Homo sapiens: one gene and its partner. The protein of the gene in region 1 purifies or fractionates together with the protein of each later gene. This does not show direct contact. Each region holds a gene or a part of one and is shown in the gene's direction. Other genes may lie near its edges. The genes, in order: SLITRK4 and CNPY3.

The links.
Region 2: the proteins of SLITRK4 (region 1) and CNPY3 purify together in Homo sapiens (affinity purification with mass spectrometry; 2 studies listed by BioGRID and IntAct, with this or other methods). This does not show direct contact.

What each region holds. Positions count from the first base shown.
Region 1 is NC_000023.11:143,631,941-143,641,330, reverse strand, and holds the start of SLITRK4 (SLIT and NTRK-like protein 4 precursor), read left to right. Parts: upstream 1-5,229; 5' UTR 5,230-5,596; intron 5,597-6,239; exon of another isoform or gene 6,240-6,452; intron 6,453-6,827; exon of another isoform or gene 6,828-7,203; intron 7,204-7,749; exon of another isoform or gene 7,750-7,874; intron 7,875-9,390.
Region 2 is NC_000006.12:42,930,101-42,939,494, forward strand, and holds the end of CNPY3 (protein canopy homolog 3 isoform 1 precursor), read left to right. Parts: intron 1-4,277; exon of another isoform or gene 4,278-4,374; coding exon 4,375-4,498; intron 4,499-5,311; coding exon of another isoform or gene 5,312-5,373; intron 5,374-5,436; coding exon of another isoform or gene 5,437-5,473; coding exon 5,474-5,570; coding exon of another isoform or gene 5,571-5,654; exon of another isoform or gene 5,655-6,265; intron 6,266-7,616; coding exon 7,617-7,739; intron 7,740-7,989; coding exon 7,990-8,107; intron 8,108-8,467; coding exon 8,468-8,691; 3' UTR 8,692-9,194; downstream 9,195-9,394. UniProt on the Homo sapiens protein: Toll-like receptor (TLR)-specific co-chaperone for HSP90B1. Required for proper TLR folding, except that of TLR3, and hence controls TLR exit from the endoplasmic reticulum. Consequently, required for both innate and adaptive immune responses.

The sequences.
Region 1 (9,390 bases):
CCTATTTTATAACAATCCTTTTGTCTTAACTGGAATAAGTCTAGGGATGAACACTACTGCTTTGCTTGGTGTGGTGGTTAATAATGAGCGTCAACTTGATTGGATTAAAGGATGCAAAGTATCGATCCTGGATGTGTCTGTGAGGGTGTTGCCAAAGGAGATTAACATTTGAGTCAGGGGGCTGGGAAAGGCAGACCCACCCTTAATGTGGGTGGGCACCATCTAATCAGCTGCCAGGGAATGTAAAGTAGGCAGGAAAATGTAAAAAGGTGAGACTGGCTTAGCCTCCCAGCCTACATCTTCCTCCCATGCTGGATGCTTCCTGCCCTTGAACATCAGACTCCAAGTTCTTTAGCCTTGCGACTCAGACTGGATTCCTTGCTCCTCAGCTTGCAGACAGCCTAATGGGGGACCTTGCGATCATGTGAGTTAATACTACTTAATAAACTCCCATATATATATATATATATATATATATATATATATATATATATATGTATATATAAAATATATAAGTGTGTGTATATATATATGTGTGTGTGTGTGTGTGTGTGTGTGTGTGTGTATATATATTAGTTCTGTCCCTCTAGAGAACACTGACTAATACACATGGCTTCATTTGGTGATAGTGAAAGTGATTATCCCTAATAAGGAACATTTGAGACATCATCACAGATTCAGAATCAACTCAGGTATGAGAGTTGAAAGAGCAGAATGGATAGAACAAGGCTACTACTGGCAAAAGGTAAAATCAGTTGATTCAAGAGACCTTGTCATGCATAATTGATGTGAACTGTTTTTAATGTCATTTATTTGTTTATTCCTGTGCTGAGTATTCATACTTTAATACTTGAAAACATTTATGTCTCAAGTATTCATCTTTGGAAAATTTATTCTGCTTTCAAATCTATCCCTTTCTCTTTTTTTGAGACAGGGTCACTCTGTCGCTCAGGCTAGAGTGCAGTGGCTTGATGATGGCTCACTGCAGCCTTGACCTCCTAAGCTTGAGCGATCCTCCCACCTCAGCCTCCCTAGTACCTGGGACTACAGGTGCACCCCACGATGCCTGGCTATTTTTTTAAATTTATTTTTTAAAGAGATGGCTTTTCACCTTGCTGCCCAGACTGTTTGTCTTGGCATCCCAATGTGCTGAGAATACAGGCGTTAAGTCACCCTGCCCAGCTTTCAAGTCTATTCTGCTTTCAAAGTTAAAAATTCCCTAATCCCCCTGTGAAAACGAAAATGTGGTGTACTGGAAAAACCTCAAAGATCTGGGGTCAAATCTTGACCATCACTTACTCACCATGTGACCTCGGGCAAACTGTTTACCTTCCCTGAATTTTATTTTATTTTATTTTATTTTATTTTATTTTATTTTATTTTGAGAGAGTCTCAGTCTGTTGGCTGGGCTGCAGCGCAGTGGCATGGCCACAGCTGATGGCAGCCTTGACCTCCTGGGCTCAAGTGATCCTCCCGCCTCAGCCTTCCAAGCAGCTGGGGCTACAAGCATGTGCCACCATGCACCACTGATTTTTGTATTTGTTGTAGAGACGATTTTTCCCATGTTGCCCAGGCTGGTTTTGAAATCCTGGGCTCAAGTGATCTCCCCACCTCAGCCTCCCAAAGTGCTGGGATTACAGGAATGGGCCACCATGCCTGGTCACTTAACCTCATTTTTAAAATAAGTATGATAATCCCTTCCTTGTTCATAGAACTAAATGAAATAATATTTGTAGGCAGCACAGCAAAGAAGAGGCACTCAACAGACAGTAGCTACTATTGAATGGGTTAATTATGATCTGAAAACTTCCTTTCATGTTCTAAATTCCAGAAAATTTGTAAAAATGGGCTATTAGTATGTTTTTCAAATTATATAGATAGAAAAAAGGGTTCCATTGTTAAGTAAGTCTGTGAAATGCCACATGCCATATCCCTTTTCCCTTGGTAAATAAAAGCTCATTTAAACATAATTAATTGTGTTGAAAAATCCCAAAGTAAAAATAAAATGTTTAGCTTTACGGAACCAAGGGTCTTTTAAACTTATTTGATCATGGAAACATTTCTTCCCAGAAGATATATTAACATCCTAAGAACTTTCTTGTATTCCACTTAGAGAAATAGCAAGTGTGTGACCGGACACGGTGGCACACGCCTGTAATCCCAGAACTTTAGGAGGCCGAGATGGGCGGATCACCTGAGGTCAGAAGATTGAGAACAGCCTGGACAACATGGTGAAACTCCATCTCTACTAAAAATACAAAAATTAACCGGGCATGGTGGCACATGCCTGTAATCCCAGCCACTCAGGTGGCTGAGGGAGGAGAATTGCTTGAACCCAGGAGGCAGAGGTTGCAGTGAGCCGAGATCACACTAACGCACTCCAGCCTGGGTGACAGAGTGAGACTCTGTCTCAAAAATAAATAAATAAAAATGAAAGAGAAATAGCAAGTTTGTAACTGTTAAAATGCCAGAATATAAATAAATCTTCAATATTAAAATACACTGAATCATCTGTGATACCTGGATACGAAAATTAAGGCTGATTTGATTTTGAGCAGCAGCCTAAGACAAGGCAAGATAAATGAGGAATACAGTGAAAGTGAAAGACCGCTGACTAGGGCCAAGACTTGGCATTATAATCACTTTCGGTTGGTAGTGTTTTAATGACTTAATTCCAAACTGCCTTCGGAACGGAGGGTATACAGGATCTTGTTGAAATTCTTAGTGCAGTTGTTTTTTTCCCTGATGGAGGGAGACACAGTATATCAGTGTAGACCTACGATTCTGGTTGTACTCCTAAAAAGTCAAGATGAAATAAGGTAAAACATTTGGAGGAAGACCGTGAGAGTATTGCAAAACTCACAATATTTGCATGCTTACATTTTAGGAAGAACATCAATTTTGTTTTTCTTTCAATGGCCATAAATAGTGCTGGAGTTTTCTTAACACTTTTATTTATGTATATATTCACTTCCTTTGTTAAGCTAGCAATTCTGTGTCATTTCCTACTGTTCTATTGGGATGTCACCTGTAGTTCTAGGGGACGGAAAAGGGACTGTGGGACTAAAGGATTGGGTTAATTACTTTGAAAGCAAAATAAGCATAAAACATGGAAGTTGTTACTTCTGTTTTATTTTATGAGTGTCCACTTTATCTTTTTAAGTAGCAAAACATTTTATTTTAAAGCATTCATTTAAAAAAGTTGAATATTAATCACAGATAAGTTCTTAGGAATATTATGAATTGTAATTTATCGATGATCTAGCTACAGTGGCTTTCAGATTTGTCTCCATATCCATATGAAAAATAACATTTCACAGTTATTGCAGTTAAATATAGCCAAGTCTCAGAACAGTTTCTAAAGTTGAATAAAGATAGGCATTTAAATCATCTGATATTTACTGTCCAAATCTGGCCTTTTCAGTTATCACATTACTTAGAATTTTCAGGTAAACTTTTTTTGCTCATTCTATTGACTCTTGTTAACATTTGTAGTAAAAGACAAACATTTCACCTATCTGGATAAAATATATTCAGCTTCCTGAATTGTTAGCATTTAGAATAAATGCCAACTTGTTTTGATACCCATTACTACTTTCAAACTGCATTACACAATAAAATGCAAATGTGAGTTATTAATTAGCAGGATCTGTTTTGTCCAAGTGTGCAAGAGTAGAGGGATTTTTCAACATTCTGCAGCTGTTACCTATGAAGGAAACATCATTCACTTTGCTAAAAGGAGCTGCACAATTACATACGCTGTTATAGACAAATATTTTAGTGTTTCCTTAATGCTATTTCATAATGGATTTCACATTGAATAAGATAAATTTTACCAATGCTGCCCAATTTCTGTCTCTAGGTTGTTTGTAAAAGAGAGGATGATTACAGTTTTCAAGGCAATGTGGAGTGAAGGTAGAGAAAGAGTTCTTCATGAACGACACAATATTTAGCAAGGTCATAAAGAAATATGCCCATACACGCATATCTATTTAAGTATTCATTTACATATTGTACGTGCATCTCTGTATACATGTTGTGCCCGGTGAACATTTGTGTGAATATAACCTGACGGAAGTCCCATAAAATGACAAAAAATGAAAAACAATGAAACATGTATATGAATGACTACTATAGATGATACAGAAGGTAGACCATTATTCACAAATAATGTAATAAATCCTTTGCCCATCAGATGTTTCTACCTAGATTTGGGGCCTTTAAACATCAACCAATTATGGTAAATGTTTAACTGTAGGAGTTCAGGCAGACAGCCAAATTCTGGTTTCAAAGCTGTTGCTAGTTTTAGCTTAAAGATTTTTTTTTTCATTTTTAAGCAAGAACATTTCTGGATACCGGTTGTGCTCTATTGTGGCTAGAGCCGCTGGGATTTGAATAAGTAAATTGGGCAACACACTGGTCCTGAAGAAATGGGCCTGGCAGTATTACCTGAATGTGGCAAATAATAGGCTACCAAGAGTCCTAGGGAAATACTTCCCATTTATAACTTAGCTCTACTTACCTAAAGCTAGTTTATTCCCACAGACACGAAGAGAGAGAGAGTTGTTTTTCTTAGCCAAGCTCCTACAAAAAACAGCAAGGTTGGGGGATGGGAGCACATCCAATGTTTATGCCTTTTGTTTAGGAAAGCCAGGTATCTGAAATACATACATGATAGCCAACTCCTCTCTGCTCCCCTCCCCCAGGTTTATTTATTTTCTTAACAAGCTTATTAACGAAATTATCAATTTGCATGAAACTGGTTTGAACATTGGCCCTTCCTCAGAATATTTCTTATCTCTTGTGGAAGCACTAACAAAAAGGGTAGAAGAAGGGGCCTAGACAATCCACACGTTGGATTTGCAGCCACTGGATATTTCAGATTCAGCTGCTAAAGCCTCTTTGGTATACACAATGAGGGGCGACTGAAGTGACTTTTCTTAGTCCATTTCCTCTCCTTCTCCCCGTCTCCCGAAGGTACTCCGTGGGTCCCTTCCCTTTCTCTCTTCACAGTCCCTCCTGAGCAGTCCCAAAGCTTCAAACCTTGTTCTCCAACCCCCTTTCCCTAATGTCTCCCAACTACCACCCCCTTCCCCAGTCAAACTCCCCTCCCGGTCACCACCAAAGCCCGGAGAAGTGGAATGCACACAATGCCTCCCTTATAGGGCTTGAGCTGGGAACTGGGCATGCTCAGTAGCCAAAGTAGTTTTTTTTTTTTTTTTTCTTTTGGTCGCAAGTGCGGCATCTCTCCCAGTCCCACGCCTCTCTTTCCTCAACCCCTATCCCCTATCCCCTATCCCCACCCCCAGCTCCAAGATCATCCGGCTTAACCCATTCTGCACCAAAGGCCCACGGAGTTCTAAGGTGCGGATAATTAACCCGTCTCCTTCTAACCCGGCTAAATAGTCTCACTTTAGGCTAAAGCCTCACACTTTCGCCTTAAAGCCCCTGGCCCCTTACGCGCAGACAGGTAGGGGGAGTGCGAATACTACTGGATCCTAGGAAATTGGTTCCCAAGAAGGCTCCTTCCAGGATCGACCGCCACGGAGAAGTATTCCAGGAGCCCTCCGTTCTGCGGGGTGACAATTAGCCAAAGGTACCGTACCCGTGATACAAAATCCAAGTATGATTGTTGCATTTGAATGTCATTGTTGTTGACTCATTCCCCTCCATCCTGTAATTATTCAATTCCGCGTAGACTCGACGACCCTATCGATCTCCCTCGGCCCCCCTCCCCCAGGCTCTCCAGTGTTTCTTTGGCTTTTCCTGGCTTCTTGGTTGCTCTCTCAAAGGAATGCCCCGTGTGTGTGTGTGTGTGTGTGTGTGTGTGTGTGTGTGTGTGTGTGTGTTCCTTCGTTATTAGGGGACTGGAAGAGAAGAAAAGGGCTCGAGTGTGTGTGTATGTGGTGGGGGGGATGGAGGCGAGTGCGCCCTTGTTAGAGGACTGGGGTCTCCACGCCTGAGGAAAGGGGTCGCTCCTCCCTAGGGAATGTTTTAGGCAAAAAGAGGGGGCGGATGCCGGGAGGAAAGCGCGCTGTCTTTCTGGGTGTGTGGGTAGAAGAGGAATCAAATGGGCATGTCTGGATGGGGGACGGGGGTAGGAGCTCAGGAATGTGAGGGGGTCAAAGTGGTCGAGTGTCGGGAGGAAGGACTGCTTGTGTGCGGGGTGGGGGGGGGTGGTGGAGAGCGGGGGCGGGGATTCAGCGCGTGTATGTAAAGGTGCAGCCCGTGTGCTAGGCGCTGGGTGCGCGCGCGGTGTCTGCTCGGGTGCGCGCGCGCGCCGCTGCCCGCCTGCCCGCCGGCCCGCCTGCTCGCCTGCTGGGGCTGCTCCGTGGGTTTGACGGGCGAGCGGGCGCGGAGGAGCTCTGTCCGGAATCACATAGATACCATCGTGGAAACAGCAGCGCAGGTCACGGCGCCGCGGGCCCTGCACCAGACGCTGGGCTCTAGAGGTGGGTGAATTTTCAGCGGGGGCTGCACAAGCTGCACCGACACGCGTGCTGCCTCTTCCCCGCTCAGCTCAGTAGCGCGTGTGCGTGCGTGTGTGTGTGTGAGAGAGAGACAGAGAGAGAGAGAGAGATCTCGCGCGCGCGCACGCGAGCCGAGGGGGCAGGTAGCTTATTATTTTTAGTTTGGGTCCTGTTGGTTTGGGGCCGGTTGAGTGGCCAAAGTGGCCGAGGTGGCTAATCCTGCCCTCCACCTCCCACTTGCCTGCCTACGACGCGGTCTCATGCCGCTGAGGACCGGAAAGGATCCGGGTGTCCTTGGCATCGCTGCCCGCCCCCCCCCCCACCATACCCCAAGCGGCCAGGGCGGCGGGGCAAGTTGTACAGGTCTCGGGTGGCTCCGGCTGTCGGGCCGCTGGGCTGGGTTGGGCTTTATTTTTGCACCCCACTCGCAGCCACTTTCCGCAGACGTGGATCTGAGGCTCGGGGCAGTGGCCCGCGGGTTGGTCGGAGATTGCTAGCGCTCGGCAAGACTAGGAATACCAGAGGAAGAGCCGGTGGGTAACTCTAAAAGCTCTGCAAAGCCAGGCGAGCGCTGCCAGCGCGACTTTGCAAGGGGCCTAAATGTTGAGCTGATTTCTGGCATGGTGAGAGCAGGATTTTTGTAGCTGGCCAGGGAGGGAGAACAGGCAAGGGGGAGCCTGGGCCGCCGCTCGCAGCCACAAAACCACAGGGTCACTCTGCCCGTGGCAAGCAGGTCAGTGACTCCCTAGTGCCAACGTCTTCGAGGCGGCCTGATCTGGCCTCTCTTCCTCCTCACCCACCGCACGCCTGGGTCTAGAGAGGTCCACTGAAACTCCGGCAGCTGCCCCTTGTGGGACGGGAGCGCGCGGAGAAATGTGTGAGCGGCGGGACTGAAGGCCCCCGCGACATCCCGCGCGGTACCCCGCCTCCGCTACACGGACCGCCAGGCTGCTGCTTGGGCCCCTGACGCGGAGGGGGCTGAGCGGCCGGCTCCGGGAACAGGGATGCGGCAAAACATTGCGGTACGCGCTAGCAGCCCCTCCAGCCTCCTCGCCGCCCGCCCGAGGTAGCGCACCCGGGCGGCAATGGCCGGGTCTCTCCGCGAACCTCTTCCACCTCCATCCGAGCCTTAGGCGGGCCAGCGGGGTTTCCCGAGGGAGCTCTCGGGGAGCCACCTCGGCCCACCGCCCTGAAGCCCATCAGTGTTCTGCCCCCCTCAGGCCGCTTCTCTCCTCCCAGTCGCGGAGTGCCAGGCGCTGCACTCCGGTGGATGCAGGATTTGTTTTTGGTCGGGCTAGGTTTGTTCAGTCCTGGCTGGTCGTGAGAGCCAAGGGTCTTTCAGGGCACCGAGAGGAAGACGGACAGCTCCCAGCAGCCACAGAGAAGGCTCTTGGTACCCAGCTGGTACTTTGTGGGCTTTTTCTTTTCTTTTTTGCGTTTTTCCCTTGATGTTTAAATGTGCATGTTTCAGTGGTACCACCGGAGTGTGAGGCTTTATTCGCATACATTCAGTGCTCCCTTTACCCTCTTTGTAGCTCCCTTCTCCGAGTTCTTTTTCTTCCTTTCTCCACATTTCCATGGTCTCTTGCCCTTTCAGTACCTCTTTTCCTCTCTCCTTGGTGGACCAACTGGACTCTTTCTCTCTCTTGCCTGCCCCTCCAGCTGCTTGTGGCTTCCTCTGTTTCACAAGAGCTGCATTTGGGAACTTCCTGGCTCTTACTAGTGCCTTTTCCCCCCCTTGCTACTTAAAGTAGCAATCACCAGGAGGAGGGCAGCTCCTTATGCATTTTCAGATGTGTTGAGATTCCTGGTTCTTGTTTTTGTACTGAATTCGGATTATAAGGATTTTTTTTTTTCTGCGTTTGGTTTTTAGTTTGGTTGCTTTTGGGTTTCTTTGTTTTGAGGTGGGTGGGGTGGTGGTTTAGTAACAAGAAATGACTCAACTGAACCAAAATAGCTGTTGAAAACCACATTCATAACAAGGCAAAAAATATCAAGTGAAATTTTGATTTTACAATGAAAGTTGCTTTAGGTGATGTCATAGTTAAGAATTATGACTTCTTTTTGCAATGCCAATCATGCTCTCATGGTGAATAGGGGAAATGCACGTCTATATGGCAGCCAAATAGCATCTCAGCAGTGCTGGCTGTATTCTGAACCAAACTACTTAAAATGCAAATCCTCCTGGGTCATGGCTAATGGGTTGTCTACCTTGAGACATGTTCGGTTTTACCACTAGCTGATTCCTCGTGGGTAAAATAAACAAAGGAGTTTCTGTGCGACACTTCTTTCTTTGCATCATTTCCTTGTTGTGTGTTCCTGGGTATTTTATGTATTTAATTAATATTTGGAGATAACGATATTGAAATTGCACCCAGCTTCCCATTCACAATGGAAAAGACTAATATTGCTAAAATAGTATCAATAAAATGCACTCTGCTTGTGTTGTTTAATCTTTTCCAGGAAGCATCGTGTATGTTTGTGTATATATGCAGTATTTAAGGACCTGAAAACGATGAGTTATTTTGCTAAGCATTAAACTCTACCAACAAGTGATTCTTTATGCGTTTACAGTCAGGGACATGGGGTGGTAATATTAGGAAGGGCGGGTGGGTGTTTGGAACTGATGATTTTAGGACGAAAAATGTGCTGTACTGAACATATTTGGTGCTGTAGCAAAAGCTACTCAAAGATTGTGTTGTGTGAACTCCCCTTCCTCAGCAGTTGCAGTCTGTGGTCAAAGTGAAAGAGATAAAGCAGTTAAGCCGAGGATCAGTCGGACCTGGGTTCAAAATGGTAAATAAAGATGTGGGAGAGGGCCAGGGAGGCAAGAGAGCCAGTTCTCAAAGTGGAAAGACTGCCTGGAGATTAGCTAAGCAATGCAGGAGTAAGCAGGTTACTCTGCTGCTTTCAGAGGCTC
Region 2 (9,394 bases), on another chromosome or scaffold:
CCGGATGAAGAGAAGTGGAAAGAGAGGGGCCCACTCAGGAAACTACAGAGGCAGAGGCCTGCCGGCTGAGAAGCTAAGAACGAGTTTGAGGAACTGAAAAGCTCCAGATGACTCATCTTGGGGGAAAAAAACCTAAGACTTTCCCCTTTTGCCCTCACTGCAACCCAATCTGTGTAGTTGTCTGTTGCACCCACTAACAACTCCTCGAAGGCAGGAATTTTTGTCTTAGATACGTATTCACACAGTGTCTGGTAGGCACTCAATAAATGTTTTGAGAATACAGATGATTAAATGGGAGACTGTGGGTGTGTGTGAGGAGGAGGATCTGGATCTGAGGAGCCCTTTGGGGGAACAATAGAGCCTATGGGGAACTTGAAAGAAGATTTTAGGACTTTGGAGAAAAGGTGAGTCCCAAAGACATAGGCGTTGAGGAACTACAGAGAGAGAGAGAGAGGGAGCTACCAGCGAGCCAGGACTATAAAGGACCTATTTCTTTTTCCTCAACTCCGTCCCTTAGTTTTCTCCTCAGACCTTACAGTCATGCCTGCCTTCCTAGCCCCGTAACCCCAGGGCCCCCAGAAAGTTGGCTGTGAATCTCTCATCTGAATTGAAAGCCTACATCAGGCCAGATGTTCCCTAAACACTGGAAAGTGGGTTTGGGGTAAGTTTCGGACACATAATCCTTCCATTAGAGAGATTAAAAGGATGCTTTAGAGATAAGCCGACTTCACTGGTAGGGCACCCAGTATGAGTTCAAGCCTGTGCCTTCCCCCGTACATTCTTTTCTTTTTTTCCTTTTTTTTTTTTATGAGACTGTCTGGCTCTGTTGCCCAGGCTGGAGTGCAGTGGCGAGATCTCGGCTTATTGCAACCTCTGCCTCCTAGGTTCAAACGATTTTCCTGTCTCAGCCTCCTGAGTAGCTGGGATTACAGGCGCATGCCACCATGCCCAGCTAATTTTTGTGTTTTTAGTAGAGATGGGATTTCATCATATTGGTCAGGCTGGTCTTGAACTCCTGACCTCAAGTGATCCACCTGCCTTGGGCTCCCACAGTGCTGGGCTTATAGGCGTGAGCCTCTGCTCCTGGCCGCCCTTTCACTTTTCGCTCTTCCTCTAGTCCTGATAGCTTTTTTTTTTTTTTTTGAGATGGAGTTTCGCTCTTATTGCCCAGGCTGGAATGCAGTGGCGCGATCTTGGCTCACCGCAACCTCCAGTGACCCACCCTCCTCGGCCTTACAAAGTATTGGGATTACAGGCATGAGCCACCGTGCCTGGCCTTTTTTTTTTTTTTGAGACGGAGTCTTGCTCTGCCCAGTCTGGAGTGCAGTGGTGCGACCTTGACTCGCTGCAACCTCCGTCCCCCAGGTTCAAGGATTCTTCTACCTCAGCCTCCCGAGTAGGTGGGACTACAGGTGTGTGCCACCACTCCCGGCTATTTTTAGTAGAGACGGGTTTTCACCATGTTGGCCAGGCTGGTCTTGAACTCCTGAACTCGGGTGATCCACCCACCTTAGCCTCCCAAAGTGCTGGGATTACAGGCGTGAGCCACTGCACCCAGCCCAGCTAACTGATAGCCTTTCAGCGTTTCGCTTCCTCTTCTCTTTCTTTTCTGTCTTATTATTATTATTATTATTTTTTTTTGAGACGGAGTCTTGCTCTGTTGCCCAGGCTGGAGTGCAATGGCACAACCTCGGCTCACTGCAACCTCTGCCTCCAGGGTTCAAGTGATTCTCCTGCCTCAACCTCCTGAATAGCTGGGATTACAGGCACCTGCCATCATGCCCGGGTAATTTTTGTATTTTTGTAGAGACTGGGTTTCACCATGTTGGCCAGGTTGGTCTTGAACTCCTGACCTCAGGTGATCCTCCCACCTCAGCCTTCCAAATTGCTGGGATTACAGGCATGAGCCTCCGTGCCCAGCCTGTATTCTGTCTTATTCTGATATCAAAGAGCCCATACTCTCCCTCTTATTATTCTCATAGCCTAAGGAGCTCACATTTATTCTCCTTAGGCAACATTCACAGACTCACGGAAGCATAGAGATGCCCAGGATCTCTATATCTCTATATCTAGAGATCATTCTAGTCTACCCTCATTTGGTAACTGATGAAGATTAATTGAAAAGGGATTTGCAGTCACAGGATGGCTTGGCAAACTCCAACCGTTAGGTTCATCTTAATAGTATATTTGTTTGTATTATTATTACACCTTTGTTATTAAATGCTGACTGTGTCTAGCCCACCAAGCCTGCCTCCTGGCTCAGTAGCCTGAGTGGAACAGGCCTCGGCACAGAGGAAGGAGAACCTGCCCGGAAAAAAAGAGTGGGTGGATGTCAGTGAGGGTCTGGTGTCTGTGCCGTGAATCTCCTGTGAGTCTGGTTCTGGGTGGGATCCGCAGAGGAGGTCTTGAAGAGGTAATGTTTGGAAGAGCTGGAAAGCAAGGCTGTGGTTGATGGGTATGAGAGAGAAAGGATGTTCCAAACCTCCCCTTTCCCCACTCCTGGGGAGGGCGTGGGAGGAGGGGCAAGTGGTGCTAGAAAAATGATGTGCCTGCACAGAGTACAGGACAGAAGAGGGGAGGGAGCCCAGATGGTCCTGGATGGAGAGCTGGGGAGGTGAGACATCCCCAGTTCATTGCAGACTTGAAGATCACCAGCTTATTACTTGGAATTTGTATGTGTTTCAAATTCTCCAAGCCATTGATTAATTTCACCAAGCAGGCCTCCAGGGGATGTATTTATTTTTGTGGTAAATTGGTATTCTAGCAGACTGTGCTGTCAGTGTTAAAACTGCTGATGGCATTTAGCCTTCAGACTGGTATTCCATTCAGAGGCATCAGAAGACGGTCTCTATCAACAAGATTTATCGAGCGTCCAGCATATATCAAGTCCCAGGCTAAGGAAATACGAAAAAATCTAATACATAATGCACATTTTGGGGACCCTTGTGGTCTATGTGGAGAGACACATCAAATGACTGAGGGTCCTTAGGGAGAGCATGGATCCTGCAGAGGCCCAGAGTGAAATCTAGAGCAATTGGCATTAGTGCAGAATGGCTTCCTGGGGGAGAGGCTTATAATGCGAGGTGGGCAGGATGGGCAGAGAAGCCCTTAGAAGGCATTAAGTATTTTCCTAGGGCCTCAGGCACTTCACACCCTCGGTGGTAGCACTGTAGCACTCTATACAGTGGTAGTTATTTGTCTACACCTTTATCTGCTGCATTAGACTGAGTATCTGGAAGGGAGGGGACCTTGTTTTCATCTCTGTATCCCCAGGCTGACACGTAGGAGTTGCCTAATACCTATTTGAGGAAGGGTAAGAGGAAATGAGGAAATAAATGTGCGGAGACAGTAGGAACAAGAGCTCTCTGGAGGGCATGGAGCAAATTAACTTGGTAGAAATAGAGCTGATGTTGGAACACATATGAAATCAAGTAATCTAACAACCATAAAAGATGTTTTGGGGACAATTAAGGAAATTTGAATATGGACTACTGGGTGATGTTGGAATTGTTAATTTTCCAAGTATCATAATTGTTCTATGGTTATGTAGGAGGAGGTCTTTTTTCTCAGGAGATACATGATGATATATTTATCTCAAAAGGTCATGTTTGCCACTTACTTTCAAGATGGTGTAGCAAAAGAAATGTATATATTGTTGAGATATTATAATTATATATTGAAGAGAGAATGTGGCAAACTATTAACAACTGTTGAATACAAGTGGAAGGTATTCATTGTGTTCTTTCAGCTTTTCTGTATGTATGCAATTTTAGAAAGTAAAATGATAGACCCTGGCGTGGTGGCTCACGCCTGTAATCCCAGCACTTTGTGAGGCCGAGGTGGGCGGATCGCTTGAGGTCAGGAGTTCAAGACCAGCCTACCCAACAAGATGAAACCTGTCTCTACTAAAAATACAGAATTAGCCGTGCATGGTGGTGCATGCCTGTAATCCCAGCTACTTGGGAGGCTGAGGCAGGAGAATCGCTTGAACCCAGGAGCTGAGATCTCATCATTGTACTCTAGCCTGGGCAACAAGAGCGAAACTCCATCTCAAAAAAAAAAAAGGAATACGAAGAACAATTGCTTAAGGGCAGGATTTACAGTAAGTACATGCTCTTACACAAGAAACAGTAGATAAAATAGAAATCCTAGAGGCATTCCTGAAACTGGGGTTAATCAGAAGTCAACATGGCACATTAGCATCCAAGATGGAGTTGCTTTAGCCTCCACAGGTTCTAACTCCTTCCCTGCCTTGAGTGCTGATTTTGGTCCTCCAGTCTAGGAAAGGATGCCCACCTGGATCTGTTTTGCTGGGAGCTGGCCTCCCATTAGACTCATGTGCACTCAGTGGGCTGTGCTACCTCCCTCCCCCAGTGTGTAAATATGTTGCTGTGGAGCTGAAGTCAGCCTTTGAGGAAACCGGCAAGACCAAGGAGGTGATTGGCACGGGCTATGGCATCCTGGACCAGAAGGCCTCTGGAGTCAAATACACCAAGTCGTAAGTGAATGGGGACTCACTGGCCTGGCCTGCGTTGCTGCTGGAGGCTTCAGGGGTTTGGAGTTCCCTTCTCCTAGCTAGGCAAACCCCCTACAAGGGCATCATTTGTAACCAAGACCTGAGTTTGCCCACTGATTCTGTCCCCAGCTAATTGGGTGACGTGCATAAATCTCTTAACTTCTTTATGCTTCAGCAGATTTCTCATCTCTAAAAGCAAGACTGTTGGACTATATCATTGATTCTCAGACGCTTGGATTTCACAGAGCAATGCAAGTTTTTTTTTGCGACGGAGTTTCACTCTTGTTGCCCAGGCTGGAGTGCAATGGCATGATCTTTGCTCACTGCAACCTCTGCCTCCCGGGTTCAAGAGATTTTCCTGCCTCAGCCTCCCAAGTAGCTGGGATTACAGGCATGTGCCATCACGCCCAGCTAATTTTCTGTATTTTTTTAGTAGAGATGGAGTTTCACCATGTTGGTTAGGCTGGTCTCGAACTCCTGACCTGAGATGATCCGCCTGCCTCGGCCTCCCAAAGTGCTGGGATTACAGGTGTGAGCCACCACACCCGGCCACAGTGCAATTTTTTAAAACATTAGTAACAGGATTACCAGCTTTTTATTTTGCTAGGTACAAATATAGTTTTTAAAAACCCAATTCTGTCAGCTGTGATCATCCTTTCAAAGAGAATGATATTTTACTATCAAAATTTAATAATTTTGCTTTATCAAAAAATCTAAATACTGAATCATTTAGCTTTATAAAAAATTCCTTCCCTTAGAGCTGTTAAAATTTTGTCTCTCTGGTCTGTGTTCCAGCATTTCAGATCCCCCAGACCAGATGACCTATCTTCCTTCCAGCTCTGAGTCACTTCCCATTGGTGAGATGTGCAGGTGTTGGGGCACAGGGCTGGAGGGACAGACCACTAACCCACTGCGGCTAGGAGGGGAACTCAGTTCCTCATCCTCCTGTCTTGGCAGGGACTTGCGGTTAATCGAAGTCACTGAGACCATTTGCAAGAGGCTCCTGGATTATAGCCTGCACAAGGAGAGGACCGGCAGCAATCGATTTGCCAAGGTTGGATTCGGGATTGTCCTTCATCCGCTCTGGGGTCAGGCCTGCATGTATCTTAGTGTGTCTGCTGGTGTGAGTGTGATTTGAAGATGACCACCTGGGATCTTCCTTCATTGCCTCTTCCCATTCTTTGATTGCCGTTTGTGCTCCTCCCCTCTTGAGTGGCCTCATTTTTCAGGCACATGCATGAGGGTCTGGGCCTGTTCATGAGGGTCCTGCTTCAATCTCAGACACAGGCAGAAATGCTCCACAGTTGCTGCCCCCGTGGGAACCTAAAGACACTAGAACGGGGAGAACTCAGCAAGATCCACGATGTGCAGAAAGGTGGGGGTTTAGGCGAGGTGTCAGAGGACACCTCGGTGGGAGTGACTGCCCAGTCCCATCTCTGGGTCCACACAGCACCTCCCACAACCCCGCTGGGATGCCCTTGTGATGGCCCATGTACTCAGTATGTGTACGAGTGCTTTTCTCTCTGGAGAATGAGCTGCTTACAACAAGGCCCATAGTTCTTACTCTCTACATCTTCAGTGCCTGGCACAGGGTAAGATAGTTGCCACCCACATTTTTCTACCTAAGTTTCCTTCTAGCAAAGGATACCATTCATAAACTCCTGGGATACCTAAGGGAATAGTCTCAAGCAGCAGAAATTTGTATGAATTTTGCACTCAGTAATAAATCTGTGTTTGCTTTAATAAAAAGTGTTTAAGAATTATTTTTCATAGCAGGAAAAAAATGAGAAACAATCTAACTCTACCAATAGGGGATTAAATACGTTGATCCAGCCGTTTGGTGGACTAGTATGCGGCTGGAAACGAAGCATGGGGAGGCTCTTTAGGAACTGAATTCAATTGATTTTCAAGGTTTTTGTGTGTTTGTTTGTTTTGGAGACAGAGTCTCACACTCTGTTGCCCAAGCTGGAGCGCAGTGGTGCGATCTCAGTTCATTGCAACCTCCACCTTCCAGATTGAAGCTATTCTCCCACCTCAGCCTCCTGAGTAGCTGGGATTACAGGCACCGACCACCACGCCCGACTAATTTTTGTGTTTTTTAGTAGAAACGGGGTTTCACCATGCTGGCCAGGGGGTCTCGAACTCCTGACCTCAGGTGATCAGCCCACCTTGGCCTCTCAAAGTGCTGGGATTACAGGCATGAGCCACTGCACCCAGCCCTTCAAGGTATAAGTAAAAAGGGCAAGTGCAAAATAGTGTGTATGCTATACCACTGCTTGTGTAAAAAGGCGGGGGGAGGATATATTTAGATATTGGTATTTGTATGAGTTATCTCTGGGAAAATAGAGGAAATGGATAGTATGTTTTCTCTGGGGATAAGACCTAGGCAGCTAGCAGAGATAGTTTTTACAGAATAAAGGGTCTACCTGCCTCAGCTATGCCTTTTTCCCACTGAGGAAAGACACAACCCAGGAAGAACGGAACAGCAGGTCTGGATGATATGGGAGTGTTTCCAGCCATAGTGAGGGGAAAGAGCTAAGACAAACCTATTTCCTGGAAAAGAAGCATAAAGCCAAAGGGCCTGAGGGCAGCCGCAGGTCTTTTTGAAGCGATGAGGTGTGCAGAGGCAGATCAGGGGGTATATGTGCAGGGGTTGTGGGAAGCAGGCCTAAAAGAGGGAAGAGGAAGGTCAGGTCAAGGATGAGGCCAGGTGCGGTGGCTCACGCCTGTAATCTCAGCACTTTGGGAGGCTGAGGTGAGTGGAAAACTTGATGCTAGGAGTTCGAGACCAGCCTGACCAACATGACAAAACCCCAACTCTACAAAAATTAGCCGGGTATGGTGGCACGCCTTTGTAGTCCCAGCTGCTTGGGAGGCTGAAGCAGGAAAATCGCTTGAACCTGGGAGGCAGAGGTTGCAGTGAGCTGAGACGCTCCAACCTGGGCGACAGAGTGAGACTCCTTCTCAAAAAAAAAAGGATGAGGATCCTTAGAGGGCGTTGAGCATTGGTCTTATAGCTGGGTTCTTAGCCACCACTGGGAGACGAGGGTGGGAGGGAGAGAAGGGAGCTCCGCCTGCCATATCTGGTCGCTTCTTCCAGGGCATGTCAGAGACCTTTGAGACATTACACAACCTGGTACACAAAGGGGTCAAGGTGGTGATGGACATCCCCTATGAGCTGTGGAACGAGACTTCTGCAGAGGTGGCTGACCTCAAGAAGCAGGTACAGGCCCTTCAGCCCTTGGAAGGGTTGCTGTGCCCAGTGAGGGGCTGGTGGGGATTGGGTCTGCTCTGAGGAAGTCCACCCAGGCCGGGGTGGCTTTGGTCAGGTCATTTCACCTCTCTGGCCTCAGTTTCCTTAGGTGAACCGCTGCCACTGCCTACCTTGCAGTGGGTTGCGAGGCTTAGCTGAGCTCCTCTAGGAGCGAGTCAGGTGCTGGGGCTTTGCCAATATGAGGTATTATGATTAACAGTGTGATGTGCTGGTGGAAGAGTTTGAGGAGGTGATCGAGGACTGGTACAGGAACCACCAGGAGGAAGACCTGACTGAATTCCTCTGCGCCAACCACGTGCTGAAGGGAAAAGACACCAGTGAGTTTGGGGAAGCAAGGGCAGGCTGGCTCTGGATGATTTGTTTGCTCTCCCTTGGGGGAGGTGGGTAGGAGGAGAAACAGAGGGCACCAGAGGGCATTGTAGGATCTCTGCCCTTGAAAGGCTTGATTGGCAAGACATGGTGAAGTAAGAGTCACTGAAACCAGGTGCAGAATGATGGGCAGACAAGTCAGATGCCCCCAGAGGGGCCTGGTGGCCACAGCGAGAGGCAGGAGGCAGGGAGGCTGATGTCAAGCACAGTCCCAGTTGCTACTCCCACGGCTCCCTGCTCAGTGCTCCTTGCCCAGCACCCCAGCCCTGAGGCACTTCTGTTGAGGGTCTCTCTCCTCCACACCCTAGGTTGCCTGGCAGAGCAGTGGTCCGGCAAGAAGGGAGACACAGCTGCCCTGGGAGGGAAGAAGTCCAAGAAGAAGAGCAGCAGGGCCAAGGCAGCAGGCGGCAGGAGTAGCAGCAGCAAACAAAGGAAGGAGCTGGGTGGCCTTGAGGGAGACCCCAGCCCCGAGGAGGATGAGGGCATCCAGAAGGCATCCCCTCTCACACACAGCCCCCCTGATGAGCTCTGAGCCCACCCAGCATCCTCTGTCCTGAGACCCCTGATTTTGAAGCTGAGGAGTCAGGGGCATGGCTCTGGCAGGCCGGGATGGCCCCGCAGCCTTCAGCCCCTCCTTGCCTTGGCTGTGCCCTCTTCTGCCAAGGAAAGACACAAGCCCCAGGAAGAACTCAGAGCCGTCATGGGTAGCCCACGCCGTCCTTTCCCCTCCCCAAGTGTTTCTCTCCTGACCCAGGGTTCAGGCAGGCCTTGTGGTTTCAGGACTGCAAGGACTCCAGTGTGAACTCAGGAGGGGCAGGTGTCAGAACTGGGCACCAGGACTGGAGCCCCCTCCGGAGACCAAACTCACCATCCCTCAGTCCTCCCCAACAGGGTACTAGGACTGCAGCCCCCTGTAGCTCCTCTCTGCTTACCCCTCCTGTGGACACCTTGCACTCTGCCTGGCCCTTCCCAGAGCCCAAAGAGTAAAAATGTTCTGGTTCTGATTTCTGAGTCCTCTGCAGCCCTCAGAGGTGCCCTGGAGCCTCTTGTTCTTTCCTGCCCCTCGCCTTCCAGCCCGTGGGGCTGAGGAGGGGAAGGCTAAAACCCACCCACTCTCGGGAGCAGCAAGTGCTGGGAAGGCCCAGGGTTGTCTTGGGGTGAGGGGAGGCATGGGCATAGGATGAGGCCCAGGGCAGTGCACTGACCTTACGCTGCTCCCTCGTGTCCTGGACACC